Linked DNA regions of Homo sapiens: all the other regions are reported to be linked to region 5. Evidence: microRNA targets listed by miRTarBase, many of them from high-throughput screens and not tested one by one. Region 5 holds a microRNA gene; each other region holds the end of a gene's coding sequence.
What was found. The annotated mature microRNA hsa-miR-6501-3p reads CCAGAGCAGCCUGCGGUAACAGU and lies in region 5 at 1,386-1,408, shown strand. An mRNA with a match to its seed (bases 2 to 7 or 8) in the 3' UTR can be bound and repressed. Matches are read on the target gene's strand: a 7mer-m8 pairs with bases 2 to 8, a 7mer-A1 pairs with bases 2 to 7 and ends in A, and an 8mer does both.

Region 1 (5,084 bases), not on the chromosome of region 5:
CCCTTTGAAGTACGAGCAGACCTTGAGGAGTCCATGGAATTTGTGGATCCCGGAGTTGCTGGAGAATCAGATGAGAGCGGAGATGAGCGCGTCAGCGATGAAGAAACCGACCTGGGCACAGACTGGGAGAACTTGCCTAGTCCCCGGTTTTGTGATATCCCTTCCCAGTCTGTGGAAGTCTCCCAGAGTCAGAGCACCCAGGCGTCCCCACCCATCGCGAGCAGCAGTGCAGGTGGGATGATCTCCTCTGCAGCAGCCTCGGTGACCTCCTGGTTTAAAGCTTACACTGGACACCGTTAACGAGCATGGACCAAAACATACCAAATCTGCATCAAGAAAGTTCTTCTCCCACTACACTCTAGTAAACATTTTCTGTTTAAGTTAAGATAGTGTCTGGAACAAAGAGGTTAAAGTGTTGTTTTGTTTTGTCTTTTTAAGCAGGGAGACAAACATTTCTATTTGCCAAGTGGCCTGTGATGGTGACCAACATGCTTATGATAATTAAGAGAACAGGGGTCGAAGGTCTTTCTACCCAGACCAGTGCTGGTGGAAGGAGGACCTGTGCGTGTGGCCAGTTCTGCCAAGGAAGCAGTTGATTTGGGTTCCCTCTGGGCCCGGGCCACCGGGCCCACAGATATGGGTCAGTGTGCTGGTCCTTGCGGTGCTGAGACTGTTCCTGACACTTTAAGTTTTAGAGGTTGGTTGAATCACAAGAGGTGATTCTTGATTATTAGGACATGAAAGATAAAAGCTCTTTAATAAGAGTTTTTCTGCCATTGTTTTTTGTATGAGAACCAGCAGGCAATTTAAAATTTCTAATTTGGTCCTTTGATTTTGTTTGGGAGGGGTGAGTTACACGTATTTTATTCATGCTGCTCTGTCGTAGTTTGTCAGACATTCCTGTTTTTCTTTCCCCCACACACCAAAGAAAATGAAAGTCTTTTTCTTTAGGACCCACATCCATAAATGGAAGAAATCCTGGCTGCAATAATGTCTAGAGAGTTTTTAACTATTTTCTTGTATTCTGAGGGGAATTAAGCTTATTCTTACCTAGTTGAATTCCTGCCATCCACACTATGAGCATTTTGAAATTGAACTTATATTTTCTGGGTGAAAATAAGTCATGAAGGTCATTCCCTTATGTAAGCTCAATGCCTGCCTGGGCACAGGGGAAAAGCCACTTAGTTAAGTGGCCTCTGGTCATTCTTGTGGTGTCCACTTTCTTTCTATGGGATTGAGTAGGTGGCAGGTGTTTTCAGGGGAAACCATCCTACTTGTTTCCCCGAACTCTTTGTTGCTCTGAGGACACAGCTTTGCTCAGAAATGCAGCGCAGATCCTTACGGCTGATGCTACTCTGCTCTGTTCTGGGGAAAGCACAATATAAAGAAAGAATTTCCCAGCCAGGCGCAGTGGCTCACGCCTGTAATCCCAGCACTTTAGGAGGCCGAGGCAGGCGGATCACTTGAGGTCAGGAGTTTGAGAGCAGCCTGGCTAACATGGTGAAACCCTGTTTCTACTAAAAATACAAAAAATTACCGGGTGTGGTGGCGCACGCCTGTAATCCCAGCTACTCGGGAGGCTGCGGCAGGAGAATCGCTTGAACCGGGAGGCAGAGGTTGCAGTGAGCCGAGATTGTGCCATTGCACTCCAGCCTGGGCAACAAGAGCGAAACTCCGTCTCAAAAAAAAAAAGAATTTCCCTCAGCAGGAGATCATTTTCAGCTCACGTGTCTTGTCATTCTTTTAGTGACAATCTTACAAGAAAACTATAATGAGAGAGGCATTATGTACAAATATGTAAGTAGTTTATTTTTAATAACTGCAAAAAAATCCTATGTAACAACTACCAAAAGAAATCCTATGAAAGAGTCCTAACAGGCATTATTACCATATCTTATGTGATTGGCATGATAGCACCTCTGATAAATCATTCAGAGGTTTGCCATGCCCCAGCTTCTTTTCTCATCATAATAATTGTAGTTGATACTTTGCCTCCAAGTCCGAGGTGCTATATAGCTTTTGCTAATGGTATATTTGGTGTTTTGTATAGTTTTGGGTAGAGTTGCAGAACGGAGTTTATTTCTATCCGGTAGTCACAAATTCCTTGGCTCTATGAATTTTCCATGAAAGGAGGAAGTAGGCTTTTCTCGTTGTGGGTGGTCTTTTTTTTTTTTGGAGACGGAGTCTCACTCAGCTGCCCAGGCTGGAGTGTAGTGGCACCATCTCCGCTCACTGCAACCACCATCTCCTGGGTTCAAGCAATTCTTCCATCTCAACCTCCCGAGTAGCTGGGATTATAGGCACCTGCCATCATGCCCAGCTAATTTTTGTATTTTAGTAAAGACGGGGGTTTTCACCATGTTGGCCAGGCTGGTCTTGAACTCCTGACTTCAGGTGATCCGCTTGCCTTGGCCTCCTAAAGTGCTAGGATTACAGGCCTGAGCCACCGCGCCCGGCCCCTTATGGGTTCTTCTACACTGCTGGGATCTCTGTTTTAAGTGCTCAGCTTCATGATTGATTGCTGGGCTTCCATTTTCCCATCCAGTTCTGGAGTTCGTAGAGAGTGAAGATGGTAGACTTGAACAGATAAATAAACTTAACGATCTTGTAAGAGTTGTCTAGCTACTTAAAACCCTCAGAAGTAAGAGCTTAGTCTCACGAGTTGTAAGAGTGGGATTTGGAGCTTGGTGGTGGAGACTGACTTCAGCTGAGAGATGCACAACAGTCATGGTTTTCTTAAGCCTCTTATGAAACCATGAATGAGAGATGAAGCTAAAGAATAGAATCCAGAGATCACAAACTCATCTAGAGTACTTCCACAAAATTTACAAAGATGTGGGAACTTTATGGATAGGATATATTTTGTTTGTTGTTGTTAATATCAACTAGAGGCACTTTACATAGGGTTAAGTGATCGAACCCTTTTGTGGTTTTGAACACCAACATACTGGCTTACACTGCTGAAATATTTTGGGTTTCATTATTTTGCACTGGATCCACCCTGTAAATACTCTTAAGTATACATTTCAACCACTGTTTTTTCTACTCTTTTTGCTGCTCATTAAAATCTTTCATGTAGGTGCCAGAACCATATGTAAACAGCTTTTTAAAAAATTGAAGCTGGTATTTTGTTTAAACAAAAAGCCATAGAACTTGGTCATGTTTTCCATTTTAAAATGATTTACTGAAACAAAGTAATACTAATAAAAACCCACAGGCACCAAACAGGCTGCTTAAAATGGTCTGTTAAAGACATTTTTTGGTTATGGAATATAAGAAAAGTTTTGCACATCTGTAAGGGGGAAAAACAGTATATCACCATTGGGTAGAGTGGACGGGACTCATGTAAGGACTCAATTTGGGGAAGAGCATTCAGTGGCATGCTGTTAGAGGACTAGTGTCCGAGAATCTCCTCACAGTATCATGTTGCAGGAATTCCCCATTGCTCTGCAACTTCCAAACCAGTTTGAGTCATACAAATGTTTTCTAAACTTTTATTGTATTACTGCAATAAATCTTTTAACAGTACTTTGCTCATGTGTATGTCTTTTTCAAACTGTTCATTTGCACTGCTGCATCGAGGGTAGCAAGAATGAGATTGAACCCTGGAGTACTTTATACAAATTATAGAAGAAGTTTGTAGAATTTTTTTGCCAGGTAAGAAAAAATGTTAATATATTTTTTAAAATTATGGATTATGGTGGTATTAACAATGATCTTTCCCAAGCTGAGAAGCTGGTTGCATACTTTCCCTAAAGACGTGTTTTTCTTTGGTAGCCATCATTTGATGCATGTGACCTACAATGACCTGGTTTTGTGCAACAGACCCCTGGGGCAGAAGGCCTCTAGGATGCCCACGTGGAACCTGCCCAGACTTTCTTCAGGACAAGAGGAAAAGGGAAATGTTGGAACCACTCAGATGCCTGAGTAGCTTTGGAGAATCCCTCCCCAACCCAACACCCTTATTTTTTATAACTAATTTCTCCCAGGTGGGTAGTCGGCGGTACCCTTCAGATTAGATTATTGTAGAGAAGGACCACCTGCAGGTGGTGGAGAAGATACCAAGAGTGACTACTGTGGAAGAGCCAGGCCAGCCAGGATACCCTCAGGAGCTATTGCCATGGTCATACTGCCCCTTTATCTGGAGCAGAAGGCTGGCAGGCAACAGGAGGAAATAGGCAAGGAAACGGAAGGGTTCTCGAACAGGGTGTGTGCTTTGGTGGTACTGTCCTTCAGTCTTTCCAGGCAGCAGTTTAAAGCATGCTCCCATCTGGTGTTTAAAGGGAGATTTCTCCATCCTGAGTTATGTCATGATTGATGCAGGAAACAGATTGGGAGGAATTAAGGATAACTTTGTCATTGGTAGTGGGGAGATTATTTAAAAGTTGCATCAATAAAATGTACCAGAAAACTTGAAACTGGACTCTTGGGCAAGCCATCTGCACCTCAGCCTTGAAATTCAATGAGGAAAACCACCACCAGCCGACTTGGTAAGAAAATACACTGCAAAGAGTATTTTCCAGTGCTTAGATAGTTGAAGTGAATTTTTTTTAGGGCGGGGCACAGTGGTTCATGCCTGAAATCCCAGCACTTTAGGAGGCCAAAGGCAGGAGGATTGTTTGAGCTCAGAAGTTCAAGGCCAACTTGCGCAACATAGTGAGACCCCATTTTTGTTTTTTTTTTTTTTTTTTTTGAGATGATAGAAGAGATGATAGAGTCTCACTTTGTTGCCCAGGCTGCAGTGTAGTGGCACGATCTCGGCTCACTGCAAGCTCTGCCTCCCAGGTTCACACCATTCTGCCTCAGCCTCCTGAGGCAGGTGTCTGCCACCACACCTGGCTTTTTTTTTTTTTTTTTTTTAAAGTAGAGATGGGGTTTCACCACATTAGCCAGGATGGTCTCAATCTCCTGATCTCGTGATCTGCTCGCCTCGGCCTCCCAAAGAAGTGCTGAGATTACGGGCGTGAGCCACTGCGCCCAGCCAGTGAGACCCCATTTCTACAAAAATTGAAAAATTAGCCAGGCATGGTCGTGTGCATCTGTGGTCCCAGGTACTCAGGAGGTTGAGCTGGGAGGATCACATG
Region 2 (5,092 bases), not on the chromosome of region 5:
GTATCCACAGGCACCTTCTCCATCCTTCCTGCTCCTCTGGAAAGGGTGCTGTGACTCCACACTTTCTCCTGTGTGACTCGGGGCAAGTCATCTTCCCTCTCTGAGTCTCAGTTTTCTTAGCTGTAAAGTAGAGGTGATCATCCTTCCCCCCTGGAGTTGGTATGCAGTCTGGCACATTTTAAGAAAGTTCCCAGCTCGTGGTAGGCCCTAAGCAAATGTCTCTCCAGAGGATGACACACAAACAGGCTGTGTTCTGGACCCAGACAATCCTCCCCTCCACCCTTTCACTGCATGCGGCGAACTCCTACACATCCTTTGATGCCCAGTTTAGATGCCCCTCCTCCAGGAAGCATTCCTGACTTAGATCACGTCCAGTTAATCTTTTGGGAACTCTGGTGCATCAGAGATGGGCAAACTCTGAGTTTATCCTGCCTCACTTTCCTATTTCCCAGTGGGGAAACTGAGGCCCAACAGGGAGGTCTTCCCTTGGCTGAGATCTCACAGATGAATCAGGGGTAACAGCAAGAAGATTCAAAACAACATCTCTAGATCCTCTGGGACCAGCTTTAGCCATGGAAAGAGGGCGTGGACGGTGCCTGTCTTGTATGCCTCTGCCACTTTGGCCCCCATTATGGTGTCCCTCAGAGACGAGTGTGCCACTAATGTCCTCTCTTCCTTCTCTCTCCACAGCCCACGACCTCCCTGCAAACAAGGCCTCAGCATCCCAGCCTGGCAGCCACTTGCAGTGCCTGTCTGTCCACTGCACAGACGACGTGGGTGACGCCAAGGCTCGAGCCTCCGTGCCCACCTGGCGGTCCCTGCATTCTGACATCTCCAACAGATTTGGGACATTCGTGGCTGCCCTAACTTGAATGACAAGAAAGATCCCCTCCTCTACCAGGCCCTTCCTCTCCCCCTGTCTGTTTCCTTCCCCCTCAACCTTACCCCACCCCTCTGTTAATTTGAAAGGGCCACTATTGCTGAGTGGATGAGTTTTTTTTTTTTCTCTAGGTTGGTACCTGCTTAGTGGCATATGGACCGGAAAGGGTTAATTTAAAGGGGGGGAACCTCAAAAGTTTTTTTAAAAAAGAAACTTGTCTGCCACAGTATGTTACCAGTGTTAACCCTTCTGCAGTTAGCAAACTTTTGCTTAAGCCTTTTTCCTCTAGATACTCCCCATGTTTCGGTAATCTTGGCATACATTTTTTAGATGACCTCTTTCCTTGTTTTGTTTTCATGCTGCTGTATGTCCAAGTATTGTTATTTCATAATAAGACAAGAGTTGCTTTCTTTTTTATTCTTTTTCCTTTTCTTACCCCCTCCCCTTTTATTTTCTTTTTGCTTTGTTCACTGCTTATTAAAATGGAAATCCTGGAGAATAGTAGTTCTGGAATATTGCCGGGTGAAAGTCCAATTGTCATCACAATGTTATATATTGACACCCCAGTGTCATCAGTCAGGCAGGAGCCAAACAATGAATGCCCCTCTTAGGTATTCCGCCTGGGATTTTGTTTTGTCTGTTCCCTAAGAAAATATATTTTCATTCCTGCAAACACAGTGCTCAGCCTTCAGTTCCCTTCCACTTGAGTTCTCTCTTCTCCTGCTGGAAGCCGCCCCTCTCTGCGATGGACGTGAGGACGTGTCCAGCTCTGCTCTGTGGGAAGGAGTTGGAATGTTCGACAGCAGTGTTTTCTCTCCTTTTCTGGGCCTCCTCGCAAATGCCCAGGCCCTGCATTTTCACGCTGTGCTAAGCAGCCTTTGGTCTGCATGGGGGATGGTGTGCTCCCAGCCTGCAGTCTTTGGAGCAAGGCTGCTGCCCGTGCCTTGGGTGCTGGAGTTGGAGGAGGCTGTTCTCAGCCCTTTCCCTTTTCTGAAAGCTGTTCCTGGCCGGGCATCCCAGGGAAGAAGGAGGGGACTGCGTGTATCTCCTCCACCTCTCCCATTCCATCCCCAGTCCAGCCTGGGCAACCCCACCCCTGGGAGGGATGAGGCACCCTCTTGCTCAGCCTGCTCAGCCTTCTCTGAGCCTTTGCAGGGATCTGCAGACTCCTGAGGGCTAGAGGACAGAGAAAGAGAATAGAATGAAATGACTTTGATTCCTGCGCCTTTTAGTTTTGAACTCTGGAATTCCTCTGCCCCCTCCCCAACATTTTTTTGGAATCTCACCCTGTTGCAAAACTAGAGCCATGTCCCAAGCATCTCACAAAGGAATAACTGCTCTGAGCAGAGATGAGTGGTGGTTGGCAGGGGCAGGCAACTTTGGGTGCTGCTGATGCCTGCAAAAGCCATTTATGGCTTGTGGTGGGGGGCACATAGATTCCCCGGTGGGTTAGACAGGAAGTAACTGATATCACTTCACCCAAATATATAACCGTGATGGTTATCTATTTAATTTCAGTTTTTGTTAACGAGCGTGTCTTACTAAAACGCTCCACTTTGAGCTCCCCCACCCCCTCCAGGTCCTCAGAGTTTGCAGATCTGGGCTTTCTAAAGCAAGTGACCTGAAGGCTCTGGGCTCACCATACAACACCCACGTTGTTTATTTCAAAGAACTTTTCAGCGAAGGGAGAGGAGCTTTCAGAAAAACCTCACTCTTTCCCCTCCCTTCTCCCCTCTTTCCTTCTGCCGGTCCTTTTGGCTGGGGTCTGAGTCTGCGGTTCTCGCCTGGGCAGTCTTGACGAGGAGCAAACCCCGCCTTCAGAGGGCAGACAAAGCAGGTGGCATGAATTGATCAGCGAGAAAGGTGTGAGCCGAGGCAGTTCCTGCGTTCTGCTACAAAAGGAATGGAAAGGGAAGGGAATTTCCCCCCACCATGGGCTGTGGGAGAGTTGACCGTATTCTGGGCAAGACTCCATGACCCCTCTGATTCTGCAGTGTACAGCTGTTTGAGAGCCTCATCATTTTACTTTTGAAACAGGAATGATTTCTCCTTAATTGCTTAAGGCCGGGGAGCAAAGTGTCTTAACTTCTGTCTTTGACTTTCCCAGCGTTGAGTCATCAACACTTTGCCAATTAGCTCATGGTCCTGGCAACCTCAGAAACCCCTGAAGTTTTAAAAACTTTCTCGCTCCCCACGACCCCAGAATGAAACAGCTTTAAAAATAGCCTTAAGCAAAAGGATGTTATTTCATTAAATTTGGTTTAATGGAAAGAATAAAAGTAAATGAAAAACACACCCTACACACTAGACTCCGAACACTGGTAATCAGTACTGCATAGCAAACTCTTTGGGAAAGAAAACGAAAATGTTATTGCACATGTAAAATATGAAAACTTAACTCTGCTGTGTGTTAGGCAATCCTGTAATCTTTTTTGACTCTTAAAAGAAATTCATTTCTGAAATGCTTGGTTGGAAGACTGTGACAATAGCTCATGAAATTGAGTGTTATTTTTTTCTTTCTTTTTTAAAAAAATATGTAAAGTGCAGTCTTCTGTATTCCTGCATATTGTATATACCTGTATATGTTTTCCTGAGCAGTTAAATAACAATAAATATGACGTTAATGGTGACTGTGGTATATTTGTGGGTGGGGCTCGCTTTCTTTGTTTCCTCCCAACTCTATCCCCTTTTTACATCAGTCTCTTCAGATTCTATGGGACGTAGGGGTGTAGGTTTGGATGCTGTAGTGGGTGTGTCTGTGTGTGTGTGTCTGTGTGTGTGTTGATGTTCTAAGTTGGGTCATTTCAGTATTTCTCAACCTTGGCACTATTGACATTTTGGGCCTGTTAATTCTTTGCTGGAGTGTAAGGGGGGCAACTAGGCATTTGAGGAGGTTGAACGGCATTCCTGGCCTCCACCCACTAGATGCCAAAAAAAAAAAAAAAAAAAAACCTATCTAAACATTGCCCAATGTCTCCTTGGGGGAAAGATCCTTTGGGGGCCAAGAACCCTGTATCTGACTCATGTAGGAGGGAGGGGGCAACGGAAGTGCCCCCCCCAGTGGCTGTGTAGGGTGATGCTTATGCTTCTGGGTTCTAGTGTTCAGTTTCAGATCCTAGTAAGCCTGGGAATCTCCTGCAAGTTATGCAGCTTCTCAGCTCCACCTTTTCCTCATCTTTGAAAGGGGTCTAGCTCGTGGGGTTGTTATCGGAGACAATGCACTGGACACAACATGTAGGAAGGGCTTCATGTGCATAAAGCGTCAGCATCAGCACCATAATCTTACCACAGGGCAGCCGATGGCGGTCTGGAGTCACGCTGTCCTGGGGCGCATGCTGCTTCCTCCCCTTACAGCCATGGACCTTGGGCAAGCGGCTTAACTACAGCCCCCAGTTTTTTTGTTTCTTAAGTGGAGCAAGTAACATCTAGCTGGAAGCTCACTGTGAGCACCAGCCCTGTAAAAGGATCGGTTTGCCTATGGGCCACTCTTTGGGCAGTGGCTTCACTCCGGCATCTGCAGCCTCAGACCTGAGGCCACTGCAGACCATTCCTGTCCTTCCCTTTTGCACCTTTACCTCTCAGTGTTTCTCAAAGCATGGTCCACAGAACCCTGGCCGCAGAAACACCTAAGGGCTCTTGTTAACTCCAGATTTCTGGCCTTGTGCTAGACTACTGAATCAGAACCTCTGAACTTGTATTTTACACCTAATTATAACAGGTGCAGTTACCTTCTTTCACAGCCCACAGCAGATCAGAGGGCTAATGTAGGTGGGCGCCCAATGCCAGGTTGGAGCGGGAAGATGAGTCAGAAATGATGGCGGCAGATTGAGAGCTGCAGCGCGGCCATTCAGTGTGGAGGCAAACAGCTTACACGTGTCTCCAATGACTCTACCCTGGAAAACATCACACTAAGGCAGAGTGTGAACAGAAGCTCCCCAGACTGGCATTAAGCTGGTAAAACGTTTAATTACATCCAGGAAATTCCCCATCTCAGGAGCAAAGAACACATTTAGGAAGATTACCTGCCATAGTTACTTTGTCACTGGGGCTGGAATCCTGAGTGGAAAAACCTCTGCAGTCACTGGGTCTCCGGGAGGTAGGCAGTGCACTCTCTCTGAGCCTCAGTTTTCTTGGCTGTAGAGTGGACAGAAAGAGTGTTATGACCCCACAGAGCTGTCTATGGGAAGACTCCTGAGCACAGTGCCAGGCACA
Region 3 (5,105 bases), not on the chromosome of region 5:
TGCTCTGTCACCCAGGCTGGAATACAGTGGTACAATCTTAGCTCACTACACCCTCCGCCTCCTGGATTCAAGGGATCCTCATGCCTCAGCCTCCCGAGTAGCTGGGATTACAGGCGTGCACCACCACGCCCAGCTAATTTTTTTATTTTTAGTAGAGATGGGGTTTCACCATGTTGTTCAGGCTGGTCTCGAACTCCTGACCTCAAGTGATCTGCCTGCCTTGGCCTCCCAAAGCGCTGGGATTACAGGCCTGAGCCACCATGCTGAGGCTATTCTAATTGTTACTGCCGATGTCGATGGTACGTGGCTGATAACTCAGAGCCTTGGCTGGGTGTATTTGCCTTACCTTTGCCATTTTTGAGGCTTGGGAAAACACCTTGAATTGTAATGATTTTGAGTGCTGGGTTTTATAAATGTTAAAATGTTTTAGAATGCAAGCACCAACTGTCTAGTGGAGTTCTTGTGTCCTTTCTCTGCAGGTATTTGAAATATCTCACCAAAAAATATTTGAAGAAGAATAATCTACGTGACTGGTTGCGCGTAGTTGCTAACAGCAAAGAGAGTTACGAATTACGTTACTTCCAGATTAACCAGGACGAAGAAGAGGAGGAAGACGAGGATTAAATTTCATTTATCTGGAAAATTTTGTATGAGTTCTTGAATAAAACTTGGGAACCAAAATGGTGGTTTATCCTTGTATCTCTGCAGTGTGGATTGAACAGAAAATTGGAAATCATAGTCAAAGGGCTTCCCTTGGTTCGCCACTCATTTATTTGTAACTTGACTTCTTTTTTTTTCTGCTTAAAAATTTCAATTCTCGTGGTAATACCAGAGTAGAAGGAGAGGGTGACTTTACCGAACTGACAGCCATTGGGGAGGCAGATGCGGGTGTGGAGGTGTGGGCTGAAGGTAGTGACTGTTTGATTTTAAAAAGTGTGACTGTCAGTTGTATCTGTTGCTTTTCTCAATGATTCAGGGATACAAATGGGCTTCTCTCATTCATTAAAAGAAAACGCGACATCTTTCTAAGATTCTCTGTGGGAAAATGACTGTCAATAAAATGCGGGTTTCTGGGCCATTCGTCTTACTTTCATTTTTTGATTACAAATTTCTCTTGACGCACACAATTATGTCTGCTAATCCTCTTCTTCCTAGAGAGAGAAACTGTGCTCCTTCAGTGTTGCTGCCATAAAGGGGTTTGGGGAATCGATTGTAAAAGTCCCAGGTTCTAAATTAACTAAATGTGTACAGAAATGAACGTGTAAGTAATGTTTCTACAGGTCTTTGCAACAAACTGTCACTTTCGTCTCCAGCAGAGGGAGCTGTAGGAATAGTGCTTCCAGATGTGGTCTCCCGTGTGGGGCCCAGCAATGGGGGCCCCTGATGCCAAGAGCTCTGGAGGTTCTTGAAAGAGGGGACACGAAGGAGGAGTGACTGGGAAGCCTCCCATGCCAAGGAGGTGGGAGGTGCCCTGGAAATAGCTGCCTCATGCCACTTAGGCCATGACTGGATTTAATGTCAGTGGTGTGCCACAGTGCAGAGGCTAGACAACTGAAAGGGGCTACCAAGGCTGGGAAAAAAATGCAATTGTTGCTGTGAGTGACTTTGAAAGACTCTGGTGCCTTGTGGTGCCCTTCTGAAATTCAAACAGTAATGCAAAAGTGTCTGCATTAGAATTTACGGTGTCTAAAATTCATGTTTTTAAAAGAGCTTGCCTACAGATGGTTTCCACACTTGAAATTGTGCCCTGCGAGTTGCATAGCTGGAAGTTCAATGCTCAGTCCTACCTTGGCTCCCATTAAACATTTGGTGCTCTGTGGATTGAGTTGAACGTGTTGAGGCTTTGCAATTTCACTTGTGTTAAAGGCTCTGGCATTTTTCCATTTCTATGCAAATTTCTTTGAAGCAGAATTGCTTGCATATTTCTTCTCTGCCGTCACAGAAAGCAGAGTTTCTTTCAAACTTCACTGAGGCATCAGTTGCTCTTTGGCAATGTCCCTTAACCATGATTATTAACTAAGTTTGTGGCTTGAGTTTACAAATTCTACTTGTTGCATTGATGTTCCCATGTAGTAAGTCATTTTTAGTTTGGTTGTGAAAAAACCCTGGGCTGAAGTTGGCATTTCAGTTAAAAGAAAAAAAGAAACTAGTCCCAGATTTGAAAACTTGTAATAAAATTGAAACTCACTGGTTTTCTATGTCTTTTTGAACTCTTGTAATCGAGTTTTGATCATATTTTCTATTAAAGTGGCTAACACCTGGCTACTCTTACTGTACGAGGCTTTGTTTTTTTTAAGGACTGGCATGTGAAGAAAAGCTTTGTCCTCACGAATTAGTTGCTGTACCAACAGTTACGTTGGTCTTTATTAGGCTTAGAAGAAAAGATGTCCTTTATTTCCACTTTTCTTCCCTTAGTTGTGCTGTTTTGCCGCAGTGAGATTCAGGGGTTGGCTGTCACTGAACTCTGTGTAGAATTTCTCCAGATCCAGAGTCTGGGGATCAACTTTGCCAGCAAATGCCGTTTTCTGATGGGGAATAGGTAGTGTCAACTTGAATTCCATCACAACCATGACACCAGCTGCGCCCAAAGCACACTGTAGACCAGTTTCCTTTGTTTTGACTCACACCTCACTTGCCTGATCGAAAATAGTTGAGGCACAGGGGCTGACTGGGGTCGTGGAGAGTTTCAAGCCGTGATTTAAGTTCATAAGAGTCCGGAAACAGGAGGTTGGTCTCGTCTCAGCCAATGCCAGTTACACAACACCTTCACGCCCTTCCCTCGAGTGTGCTGGTACAGCTGAGGAAATGAGGTTTGTTGATGTCACTAAGTGCTACGAACTAGTCACTTCTAAAGGCTTCATGTTTTCCCTCCAAAAAGCCTCTGATCCCCCTTTTCCCATGGCACTTCCAGTGGTGAAGTGTTTGGGTTTTGAGGACTGTTGTCCTCATACATTTTCAGGAGCAGCCAGGTGTTGAAATACGTGGGTCCTAACTTTGCTCATGAATGGTGTGTAGCACAGAGGTGGTCAGAAACACGGGGAAAGTGAGGAAGTTGGATAATACCAAGTGTCTTAAGACAGTTGATATCTGGGGCTATCTAGAGCTCAGCCTTTTTAGGGGACACTTGATTTCCTGGAGGGTGATAAGGACCCTGGTGATGGGGAATAATGGTCCGGCTGTTGAAGTCATTGATGTCAGGGGAGCCTGGAATTTGGTGTTGACACCTGATTTCACTTTCCATTTGTACATGGGACTCAGACCCTTAAACTTGTCAAGTATTGTAAACCAAGACCTCCCACAGGAGAGGGGGACCTAGGATGTGGGACAGTTACAGATCTGGCAGTTCCAGGGGACAGACCATCTCCCCAGTAACCCTTGGACAGAATACTGGGGTGACGAGTCAGAAGCTGCAGGGTAGGGGCACCACGGCGGTGAGAGATGGGCCAGGTCCCTGAAGGAGAGCCTGGGTTGGCACCTGCCCAGGTTGTTCGCTGAGTCGTGGTGATGGGCCTGTATTTAGTGGAATAAACTGTGGGGTTGATTCTCTTTGAGGGAGAAGAGGGTAGAAGAGAGGCTTGGTGTGGGGATTTGCCATCCCTGCAAGGAGGTAGCCCTCCACCTACAGGAAGGAGGTGAGGACTGCCTGTTAAACGGTGCAATCATAGTGCTTATCTCTAGGAACAGGAAACTGAATTTCTCATCCAGCCATTTTCTTGTCTTTGGGATGGATTTGAGAATACACATTCTTTTTTTTCCCCCAGGCTATTTTGGGCCCAGCTAAAACAGTCTGTAAAGGCTGTGCTGACCAGCGGAGTGAGTTAGCTGCCACCATAGCTAGAACCCAGAGAACACCCATAAAACGTTCTCAGGCTTACACAAGGATTTTCTCAGGTTCAGGGCCATGGCCCAGGGCTGCCTTTTTGAGAAGCTCCTTCCTCCCCTGCAACCCCAACTGATTTGAATTCAGGTGGTGCAGGGTCCACACTTTCGGAAAAAGCCTTCAAGTGCAACGAAAGTCTTGGTGCAGCAGGTGGGCACTGAGCCTTCATTGCAGAGGACACTGCGGTCCTGAGTGACGCCGTTTCACCCCTGCCGAGGAGGAGGTGTGGGGCAGAGTTTTGATCTATGTGACTCGCTGTGAGGTGGTGTATGTACAAGCACTTCATTGCCCTTGAGAAGCTGGTGGTGCCAGGTGGCCACAGCGTGGATATGCATTGTTGAACGAAATGGCCTCAGGCAGGCCTTGGGGGTTCCTGGATGAGGAGTTCATTTAGTCCTGGAATGGAAATTGAGTATGGTATGTGCAGAAGACGATGAGCTTTTTCCACTCTGTTCTTGGAAAAAGTTTTTTTTTTTTCTATTTTTGAGACAGTCTCGCTCTGTCACCCAGGCTGGAGTGCAGTGGCGCAATCTTGGCTCACTGCAACCTCTGCCTCCTGGGTTGAAGCGAATCTCCTGCCTCACTCGCCCGAGCAGCTGGGATTACAGGCGCCCGCCACCATGCCCGGCTAATTTTTGTATTTTTAGTAGAGATGGGGTTTCTCCATGTTGGCCAGGCTGGTCTCGAACTCCTGACCTCAGGTGATCCATGACTGCCCGCCTCGGCATCCCAAAGTTCTGGGATTACAAGTGTGAGCCACTGCACCCAGCCGAAAAAAGTTTTTTCCTTGATGCTTTTGTAACCGGTATATTAAAAAATATTTTGATTTTGGAATTGTCACTGAGGTGTAATTATGAGCTCTATGATCAGCAAACATGAGAATCTTGTCTCCTAAAACAGTAACCTTAATGATAGGCTTGTTCTTGCAACGCAGAGTTGCAAGTTTCAGGGATTGCTTTTAACGTCATGCATTTTTGGTCCGTTGTCATTAAAATACCCATTTAATAGTTTAACAATAATAAGGGCTCACCTTTAAAAATGACTGGAGAGCCGGGCATGGTGGCTCACGCCTGTAATCCCAGCACTTTGGGAGGCCGAGGCAGGCGGATCACGAGGTCAGGAGATTGAGATCATCCTGGCCAACAGGGTGAAACTCTGTCTCTACCAAAATACAAAAAATTAGCCAGGTGTGGTGGTGCGCGCCTGTAGTCCCAGCTGCTACTGG
Region 4 (5,085 bases), not on the chromosome of region 5:
AATGAAATCAAACCCCCAAGCTGCTTGTTTCAGACAGAGTTTTCCCAGGGCATTTTGTTAAGCAGTTCACATCGACTATTTGAAGATCAAAGATTTGGGTCATCTTTGTTTAAGATGTCCTCAGAGATGCACAGTCTTCATAACCACCTTCAGTCTCCTTGGTCTACTTCCTTTGTGCCTGAAAAGAGGAATAAAAATGTGAATCAATCAACAAAAAGAAAAATCCAGAGCAGCCTTTCCAGTGCCAGCCCATCAAAAGCAACTAAAAGTTGACTCATTAGAAAGGTGTCATTTGTGGTTTTGTCCTGAGAGAAATAGAAAAGTTGTTAAAGTTACCTTTTTTCCTCATAAAAGTTCTATACAAATTGGAATTGATAATCTTTAGTCAAGTATCAAGTCAGGATGGTGGATTAACCTGTACCCAGAATACTTATTGTTCATTTTGAAAAGACTTTGTTCTTTTCATTTTTATTTGGGAGTCTTTGTGACCAGAGAAGTTAGGGAGGAGGTTATTTTTGTGTTTTGGGGTTGGTTGGTTGGTTGGTTTTGTTTTTGGTTTTGTTTTTTTACTGAATTTGATATGTATCTCGGTTGGATATACATTGTTTTTTTAAAAAATGTTATTTAACTGTTAGATACAGTGGCCTGTTGATAAGCCCCACTTGTCTTCAGAACTTGGATTTCTTAAATAAAACTTTTAGTGTTGTCTATACACTGCTCAATAAGACACTTGAGTTTAAGCTTTTCCCAGGGTGGAAATTATTTTACCTGTCCCTTTTTATTTATGTTTAGTGATGGCCTAGTTTTTCTGCAGGGCCATGATGGAGAAATAGCACTCTAGCCTTAGTCCAATATTGATTTACTTTCTTTTTTTAGGTTTTATGTATATGTTTGCATTTTTTAGCATTGTGTTTTGTCCAGTTTTGTGAAAATGTTCTGCTAGTATGAAAGAAAACATTTTCTATATGAAGACATTTGTTTTATGTTAGGTAGCTTACATTTTCTCCTCTGCGTGTGTGTGTATGTGTGTAAAATCAGAAATTTAGCATACTATGGAAAGAAGGCATGGAGCACTTGGGTTTAGAGGAACCTAAAACATCATAGCTTCATTGTTCCAGATGTAACAGGTTTGAAAGAGCTCATCGCCAAGTTCTTGATCCACTTGCATTCCAGGGGAGTTTTCTTTTGAGTAGTATGTTTCTTGTTTGCATGTTCCTGTTCTTTGTGGAAACTATGCATGGTAGCATTTTTGCTTGCTGTGTTTTCCATACTTAAGAAAAAGAGGTTTCAGTTGGCTGATAGAATATCTTTTATGTAGGACAAAACTTTTCTGTGAAGAGTGTTGAGGGGGTGAAGATAGGTAAGAGGTAAGCACAATTTTTAATTTAGGCTCTGAAAAAGTGTATTGTTCTAAACGTATTTGGTATGCCTATATAGGTCTTTAAAAATGGGTATGTATGCTGTTTAATGTGCACTGAACATTTTACATTAATATTGTACTGTTTTACATTAATACTGCATGCTTTTCTATGTGAATTGAATAAAGAATGTCATAAGCACTGTGTTCCTTGATGTCGATGATGATTCTTTGTCTCGTATATTGAATTAGCCTATAAAGACCAGGAAAAACTACTTTTTTTTTTTTTTGAGACGGAGTCTCAATCTTGTCGCCTAGGCTGGAGTGCAGTGGCGCGATCTCTGCTCACTGCAACCTCTGCCTCTCAGGTTCAAGCAATTCTCCTGCCTCAGCCTCCTGAGTAGCTGGGATTACAGGCACCTGCCACCACACCCAGCTAATCTTTGTACTTTACTAATAGAGACAGGGTTTCGCCATGTTGGCCAGGTTGGTCTCGAACTCCTGACCTCAGGTGATTCTCCTTCCTTGGCTTCCCAAAGTGCTGGGATTACAAAAAACTACCATTTCTTAATTGATTTTATAATACATTGAAAAACTATGGTTCATGGACCAAATCTGGTCTGCGGCTATTTCCCAGGCTGGAGTGCAGTGGTACAGTTATGGCCCACTGCAGCCTCGGGTGGGCTGGGCTCAAGCCATCCTCCCCACTCAGTCTCCCACAGATCTGGGACTACAGGCATGCACCATGTCAGGCTGATTTTTTAGTTTTTGCAGAGACAGCGTCTCATTATGTTGCCCAGGCTGGTACTGAATTCCCAGGCCCAAGTGATCCTCCTGCCTCAGCCTCCAAAAGTGCTGAGCCACCACACCTGGCCAATCATAAAATTCAGTTTTATGCATTTTAATCTTTTTTAAAAATCTCCCTTGAAAGGCCTGTGAGCAAAAAATGGAATTTACAGTTGTAGAAGGTTTTTAAAAATCCATAGATTATTGCATAACACAGGAAAATTATATTAAAGTCACATTTCATTGTTTCTAAATAAAGTTACTTGAACACAGTTACACTCATTTGTTTACATATTACCTACAACATCTAAAATATTTACTATCTGGTCTTTTACAAAAAAGTTTGCCGACCCTTGTTATAATAGACTGAGGATTCAATGAAACCATAAAAGTGACAATTCACATTTGTAATTTGAAGAATCATGTCCTCCACTTATAGAAGTAATAGCCAGAGGCCGGCGCTGTGGCTCATGCCTATAATCCAAGCACTTTGGGAGGCGGAGGCGGGCCGATCACCTGAGGTCGGAAGTTCGAGACCAGCCTGACCAACACGGAGAAACCCCCATCTACTAAAAATACAAAATTAGCCAGGCATGGTGGCACATGACTGTAATCCTAGTTACTTGGGAGGCTGAGACAGGAGAATCGCTTGAACCCAGGAGGCGGAGGTTGCGGTGAGCCGAGATAATGCCACTGCGCTCCAGTCTGGGCAACAGGAGCAAAACTCTGTCTCAAAAAAAAAAAAAAAAAAAAAAAAAAGCCAGAAAGAGCTAATTTAAAGCAGAATTTTGTTTTATGTTACATATTTTCCAATCATTTTTCTGATATGTTAAAGCTAATGGATACATTCAGAGCTATTGGCACTTTAAATGTCTTTGATAATATGACTACACGTTAGAAACTCAAATATAGAAATTAAAATTTTTCTGCCACAGGTTAAATTTAGGGGTGGTATGATCTAAATCTGTGTTCCTCCAAATTCACATGTTGTAACACCCAAGGTAATAGTACTAAGAGGTGGGGCCTTTGGTAGGTGATTAGGTCATGAGGGCTTTGCTTTCTCTGAATGGGATTAGTGCCCTTATAAAAAAGGCCTGGGTGCCAGGCACAGTGACTCAACGCCTGAAATCCCAGCATTTTGGGATGCCGTGGCAGGCGGATCACGAGGTCAGGAGATCGAGACCGTCCTGGCTAACACAGTGAAATGCCATCTCTACTAAAAATACAAAAAATTAGCTGGGCGTGGTGGCGGACGCCTGTAATCTCAGCTACTTGGGAGGCTGAGGCAGGAGAATGGCTCCAACCCAGGAGGCGGAGGTTGCAGTGAGCCGAGATCGCACCACTGCACTCCAGCCTGGGTGACAGAGCAAGGTTGCAAAAAAAAAAAAAAAAAAAAATGCCTGGGGTAGTTTCCTTGCTTCTTCCGCCATGTGAGGAGGACACAGCTAGAAGGTAGCATCTTTGAAGCAGATACTGAGACCTCACCAGAATCTGCTGGTGCCTTGATCTTGGACCTCCCAGAACAATGAGAAATAAAATTGTATTGTTTAAAAATTAGTCCAAAACATTTCATCATGGCAGTACAGATGGATGAAGACAAGGGGTAAGCCTCATTGTACTTCTATCTGTAATCAAGGATGTGTCTTTTTAGTCCAAATACACACTGACACTGTGACATGGATATCTGGAGTGTGTAACCTGATTTACTAATGACTAACCTAGGTGAAAGCATCTATGTTGGACTAAGGTATTTTCCCACTGCTTATATTCAGAAACATCCCTCCATTCTCCCTAAAACAGTATTCCATGTATTAAATGTGTGCCATTTATTTAAAGGGTCTAATCTGTGTAGGATTTTATTTTAATCACACATTCTCATTTGTACTCTTTACCACTTTACCATAATGTGATGTCATGGTAAATATGGTGGTTTCATAGATTTTTAAATGTATCTATTATGTACACACACTCCAGGCAAAAACAAACAAAAAACAACCCTATCTTATACTAAAACTAAGTATCTTGCTAAGTTAACCTCTATTTCATCTAATTCCTTATTTCATCTAATCCCTTCTTAAAACTTTGTGAACCAAGTACTGTCGTCCCCAGTTTACAGAAAAACAAATCGAGAAAGAGTAATAACACAGCTGGAATAGATATGAACCATATCTTGGAGCTGGGTCTGTGGCTCTAGAGCTTCTGCTCTTCTCCCTTGTGTAATAAAGAATTCATATTTATAGACTAAAGGACAAAGGGCTTTGAAACTTTCCAAGAATTATTTTTAAAGTATTTTGGAAGTATTAACATGTTTATTTTTTATTTTTACATTTGAGACAGGGTCTCGCTCTTAAGCTGGAGTGTAGTGGTGCGAACACAGCTCATTTCAGCCTTGACCTCTTGGGCTTAGCATGTTTCTTTTACAGTAGCATTTAGTTCCTGAGTCTGACTACTAAACAGAAGCTCAACGGTGGGAGTTGTGTGTGTGCCACTTAATAGATTCACACTGACTCTGACATTTAGATTAAGTTAACCTTCCTGTCTTGGTTAATTTCACTAAGGCTATGATAGAAAAAGATGTACTCATGATAAGGAAGCAGACAGTTCATGTTTTTAGAAAAATATCTTTTGACTGCTTAAAATGCTTTGGCTATGGGAATGTGACAGGATGCTAGCAGTTTTGTTTGTTTTTTGGTCATGACTTAGTATTCATCTTTTATTTTTAAAATCATTCCATCCAAAAATGCCAAGTCTTTTTCCTGTTTTATGGAGTTAGCTGACACACAAAAAAAGAACATGGTACAGTAGTTTACAGTCCTTTAATTTCAAGTCGGCTTTGTTTCCCAATCATCTCTTGGCCATCTACATTGGTTTGAAAAGACTACTGAAAAAGACAACTTGGTCTTGAGTCTATGATGTTTCAGGAACTTCTTGTTTCTACTTGA
Region 5 (5,105 bases):
GCCTTGGCCTCTCAGAGTGCTAAGATTACAGGCGTGAGCCACTGTACTTGGCCTGTACTAAGGTGTTTTAACATGGAATGTAAATATGGGTTTATATGATTTAATCTAACTCTACTTTGGGGAATGTCTGACAAAATTAATTTCTATTACTTTTAGACTTGAAAGAGGGCTCCAGAAAAAGTAGATGCGTATCTGTACAAACAGATCCTACTGATGAAATTCCCACTAAAAAGTCAAAGAAGCATAAAAAGCACAAAAACAAAAAGAAGAAAAAGAAGAAAGAAAAGGAAAAAAAATATAAAAGACAGCCAGAAGAATCTGAGTCAAAGACGAAATCTCATGATGATGGGAACATAGATTTAGAATCTGATTCCTTTTTAAAGTTTGATTCTGAACCTTCAGCTGTGGCGCTGGAGCTTCCTACAAGAGCATTTGGCCCATCTGAGACCAATGAATCCCCTGCAGTTGTGCTAGAACCTCCTGTAGTATCAATGGAGGTATCAGAGCCACACATCTTAGAAACTCTGAAGCCAGCTACAAAAACTGCAGAACTGTCAGTTGTATCTACATCAGTAATCTCAGAGCAGTCAGAGCAGTCTGTGGCAGTAATGCCAGAACCATCCATGACAAAGATTCTGGATTCCTTTGCAGCAGCACCAGTGCCTACTACAACACTGGTGTTGAAGTCATCTGAGCCAGTTGTAACAATGTCAGTGGAGTATCAGATGAAGTCTGTGCTGAAATCTGTGGAGAGCACATCTCCAGAGCCATCAAAGATCATGTTGGTAGAGCCCCCAGTAGCAAAAGTGTTAGAGCCTTCAGAAACCCTTGTGGTATCATCAGAGACACCTACTGAGGTGTACCCTGAGCCAAGCACATCAACAACAATGGATTTTCCAGAGTCATCTGCAATTGAAGCGCTAAGATTGCCAGAGCAGCCTGTAGACGTACCATCGGAGATTGCAGATTCATCCATGACAAGACCGCAGGAGTTGCCGGAGCTGCCTAAGACCACAGCGTTGGAGCTGCAGGAGTCGTCGGTGGCCTCAGCGATGGAGTTGCCGGGGCCACCTGCGACCTCCATGCCGGAGTTGCAGGGGCCCCCTGTGACTCCAGTGCTGGAGTTACCTGGGCCCTCTGCTACCCCGGTGCCAGAGTTGCCAGGGCCCCTTTCTACCCCAGTGCCTGAGTTGCCAGGGCCCCCTGCGACAGCAGTGCCTGAGTTGCCAGGGCCCTCTGTGACACCAGTGCCACAGTTGTCGCAGGAATTGCCAGGGCTTCCAGCACCATCCATGGGGTTGGAGCCACCACAGGAGGTACCAGAGCCACCTGTGATGGCACAGGAGTTGCCAGGGCTGCCTTTGGTGACAGCAGCAGTAGAGTTGCCAGAGCAGCCTGCGGTAACAGTAGCAATGGAGTTGACCGAACAACCTGTGACGACGACAGAGTTGGAGCAGCCTGTGGGGATGACAACGGTGGAACATCCTGGGCATCCTGAGGTGACAACGGCAACAGGGTTGCTGGGGCAGCCTGAGGCAACGATGGTGCTGGAGTTGCCAGGACAGCCAGTGGCAACGACAGCGCTGGAGTTGCCGGGGCAGCCTTCGGTGACTGGGGTGCCAGAGTTGCCAGGGCTGCCTTCGGCAACTAGGGCACTGGAGTTGTCGGGGCAGCCTGTGGCAACTGGGGCACTAGAGTTGCCTGGGCCGCTCATGGCAGCTGGGGCACTGGAGTTCTCGGGGCAGTCTGGGGCAGCTGGAGCACTGGAGCTTTTGGGGCAGCCTCTGGCAACAGGGGTGCTGGAGTTGCCAGGGCAGCCTGGGGCGCCAGAGTTGCCTGGGCAGCCTGTGGCAACTGTGGCGCTGGAGATCTCTGTTCAGTCTGTGGTGACAACATCGGAGCTGTCAACGATGACCGTGTCGCAGTCCCTGGAGGTGCCCTCGACGACAGCGCTGGAATCCTATAATACGGTAGCACAGGAGCTGCCTACTACATTAGTGGGGGAGACTTCTGTAACAGTAGGAGTGGATCCCTTGATGGCCCCAGAATCCCATATATTAGCTTCTAACACCATGGAGACCCATATATTAGCATCCAACACCATGGACTCCCAAATGCTAGCGTCCAACACCATGGACTCCCAGATGCTAGCATCCAACACCATGGACTCCCAGATGTTAGCGTCTAGCACCATGGACTCCCAGATGTTAGCAACTAGCTCCATGGACTCCCAGATGTTAGCAACTAGCTCCATGGACTCCCAGATGTTAGCAACTAGCACTATGGACTCCCAGATGTTAGCAACCAGTTCCATGGACTCCCAGATGTTAGCAACCAGCTCCATGGACTCCCAGATGTTAGCAACCAGCTCCATGGACTCCCAGATGTTAGCAACCAGCTCCATGGACTCCCAGATGTTAGCAACCAGCACCATGGATTCTCAGATGTTAGCAACCAGCACCATGGACTCCCAGATGTTAGCAACTAGCTCAATGGATTCCCAGATGTTAGCATCTGGCACTATGGACTCTCAAATGTTAGCTTCTGGCACCATGGATGCTCAGATGTTAGCGTCTGGTACCATGGATGCCCAGATGTTAGCGTCTAGTACCCAAGATTCTGCTATGTTGGGTTCAAAATCTCCTGATCCCTATAGGTTAGCTCAGGATCCTTACAGGTTAGCTCAGGATCCCTATAGGTTGGGCCATGACCCCTATAGATTAGGTCATGATGCTTACAGGTTAGGACAAGACCCTTATAGATTAGGCCATGATCCCTACAGACTAACTCCTGATCCCTATAGGATGTCACCTAGACCCTACAGGATAGCACCCAGGTCCTATAGAATAGCACCCAGGCCATATAGGTTAGCACCTAGACCCCTGATGTTAGCATCTAGACGTTCTATGATGATGTCCTATGCTGCAGAACGTTCCATGATGTCATCTTACGAACGCTCTATGATGTCTTATGAGCGGTCTATGATGTCCCCTATGGCTGAACGCTCTATGATGTCAGCCTACGAGCGCTCTATGATGTCAGCCTACGAGCGCTCTATGATGTCCCCTATGGCTGAGCGCTCTATGATGTCAGCTTATGAACGCTCCATGATGTCAGCTTATGAACGCTCCATGATGTCCCCAATGGCTGATCGATCTATGATGTCCATGGGTGCTGACCGGTCTATGATGTCGTCATACTCTGCTGCTGACCGGTCTATGATGTCATCGTACTCTGCAGCTGACCGATCTATGATGTCATCTTATACTGCTGATCGTTCAATGATGTCTATGGCTGCTGATTCTTACACCGATTCTTACACTGACACATATACAGAGGCATATATGGTGCCACCTTTGCCTCCTGAAGAGCCCCCAACAATGCCACCGTTGCCACCTGAGGAGCCACCAATGACACCACCATTGCCTCCTGAGGAACCACCAGAGGGTCCAGCATTGCCCACTGAGCAGTCAGCATTAACAGCTGAAAATACTTGGCCTACAGAGGTGCCATCATCACCATCTGAAGAGTCTGTATCGCAGCCTGAGCCTCCTGTGAGTCAAAGTGAGATTTCGGAGCCTTCAGCAGTGCCTACTGATTATTCAGTGTCAGCATCAGATCCCTCAGTTTTAGTATCAGAGGCTGCTGTGACTGTTCCAGAACCACCACCAGAGCCAGAATCTTCAATTACGTTAACACCTGTAGAGTCTGCAGTAGTAGCAGAAGAACATGAAGTTGTTCCAGAGAGACCAGTGACTTGTATGGTATCTGAAACTCCCGCCATGTCAGCTGAACCAACTGTGTTAGCATCAGAGCCTCCTGTTATGTCAGAGACAGCAGAAACATTTGATTCCATGAGAGCCTCAGGACATGTTGCCTCAGAAGTATCTACATCCTTGTTGGTTCCAGCAGTAACTACTCCAGTGCTGGCAGAGAGCATTCTGGAGCCGCCAGCCATGGCTGCCCCAGAGTCTTCAGCTATGGCTGTCCTGGAGTCTTCGGCTGTGACCGTCCTGGAGTCTTCGACTGTGACTGTCCTGGAGTCTTCGACTGTAACTGTCCTGGAGCCTTCGGTTGTGACTGTCCCGGAGCCTCCTGTTGTGGCTGAGCCAGACTATGTTACCATTCCTGTGCCAGTTGTTTCTGCGCTGGAGCCTTCTGTGCCTGTTCTGGAACCAGCGGTGTCAGTCCTTCAACCTTCTATGATTGTTTCAGAACCATCTGTTTCTGTCCAGGAATCGACTGTGACAGTTTCAGAGCCTGCTGTCACAGTCTCAGAGCAGACTCAAGTAATACCAACTGAGGTGGCTATAGAGTCCACACCAATGATACTGGAATCTAGTATCATGTCATCACATGTTATGAAAGGAATTAATCTATCCTCTGGTGATCAAAATCTTGCTCCAGAGATTGGCATGCAGGAGATTGCATTGCATTCAGGTGAAGAACCACATGCTGAGGAACACCTGAAAGGTGACTTTTACGAAAGTGAACATGGTATAAATATAGACCTTAATATAAATAATCATTTAATTGCTAAAGAGATGGAACATAATACAGTGTGTGCTGCTGGTACTAGTCCTGTTGGGGAAATTGGTGAAGAGAAAATTTTGCCCACCAGTGAGACTAAACAGCGCACAGTATTGGATACCTACCCTGGTGTTAGTGAAGCTGATGCAGGAGAAACTCTATCTTCTACTGGTCCTTTTGCTCTGGAACCTGATGCAACAGGAACTAGTAAGGGTATTGAATTTACCACAGCATCTACTCTCAGTTTAGTTAATAAATATGATGTTGATTTATCTTTAACTACTCAAGATACTGAACATGACATGGTAATTTCCACCAGTCCTAGTGGTGGTAGTGAAGCTGACATTGAAGGGCCTTTGCCTGCTAAAGATATTCATCTTGATTTACCATCTAATAATAACCTTGTTAGTAAGGATACAGAAGAACCATTACCTGTAAAAGAGAGTGACCAGACATTAGCAGCTCTGCTCAGCCCTAAAGAAAGTAGTGGAGGAGAAAAAGAAGTACCTCCCCCTCCTAAAGAGACACTGCCTGATTCAGGATTTTCTGCCAATATTGAGGATATTAATGAAGCA

Region 1: the mRNA of ATG14 is a reported target of hsa-miR-6501-3p. Seed matches in the 3' UTR shown: 7mer-m8 at 874-880, 8mer at 1,296-1,303, 7mer-m8 at 1,357-1,363 and 7mer-m8 at 3,444-3,450.
Region 2: the mRNA of MN1 is a reported target of hsa-miR-6501-3p. Seed matches in the 3' UTR shown: 7mer-m8 at 1,651-1,657 and 8mer at 2,216-2,223.
Region 3: miRTarBase lists RPL22 as a target of hsa-miR-6501-3p. Seed matches in the 3' UTR shown: 7mer-m8 at 1,811-1,817.
Region 4: the mRNA of OBI1 is a reported target of hsa-miR-6501-3p. Seed matches in the 3' UTR shown: 7mer-A1 at 1,390-1,396.

Annotation. Positions count from the first base shown.
Region 1 is chr14:55,364,835-55,369,918 of GRCh38, reverse strand. It overlaps ATG14 (autophagy related 14), which reads left to right. Exons shown (of 10, transcript NM_014924.5): 10 at 1-3,528. The coding sequence ends at 300. It also overlaps a transcript of FBXO34 not described here. Among named protein-coding and RNA genes, the nearest start is that of ATG14, 44 kb to the left of the region's middle.
Region 2 is chr22:27,746,695-27,751,786 of GRCh38, reverse strand. MN1 (MN1 proto-oncogene, transcriptional regulator) reads left to right here. Exons shown (of 2, transcript NM_002430.3): 2 at 691-3,510. The coding sequence ends at 872. Among named protein-coding and RNA genes, the nearest start is that of CPMER, 34 kb to the right of the region's middle. RefSeq lists enhancers at 1,464-2,334, 4,351-4,851.
Region 3 is chr1:6,182,191-6,187,295 of GRCh38, reverse strand. RPL22 (ribosomal protein L22) reads left to right here. Exons shown (of 4, transcript NM_000983.4): 4 at 480-2,276. The coding sequence ends at 624. Among named protein-coding and RNA genes, the nearest start is that of CHD5, 4.4 kb to the right of the region's middle.
Region 4 is chr13:78,610,768-78,615,852 of GRCh38, reverse strand. OBI1 (ORC ubiquitin ligase 1) reads left to right here. Exons shown (of 6, transcript NM_024546.4): 6 at 1-1,564. The coding sequence ends at 273. OBI1-AS1 (OBI1 antisense RNA 1) reads right to left here. Exons shown (of 6, transcript NR_047001.1): 6 at 1-178. Among named protein-coding and RNA genes, the nearest start is that of POU4F1, 9.8 kb to the right of the region's middle.
Region 5 is chr21:33,549,320-33,554,424 of GRCh38, forward strand. MIR6501 (microRNA 6501) reads left to right here and starts at 1,343; the gene lies at 1,343-1,409. SON (SON DNA and RNA binding protein) reads left to right here. Exons shown (of 12, transcript NM_138927.4): 3 at 157-5,105.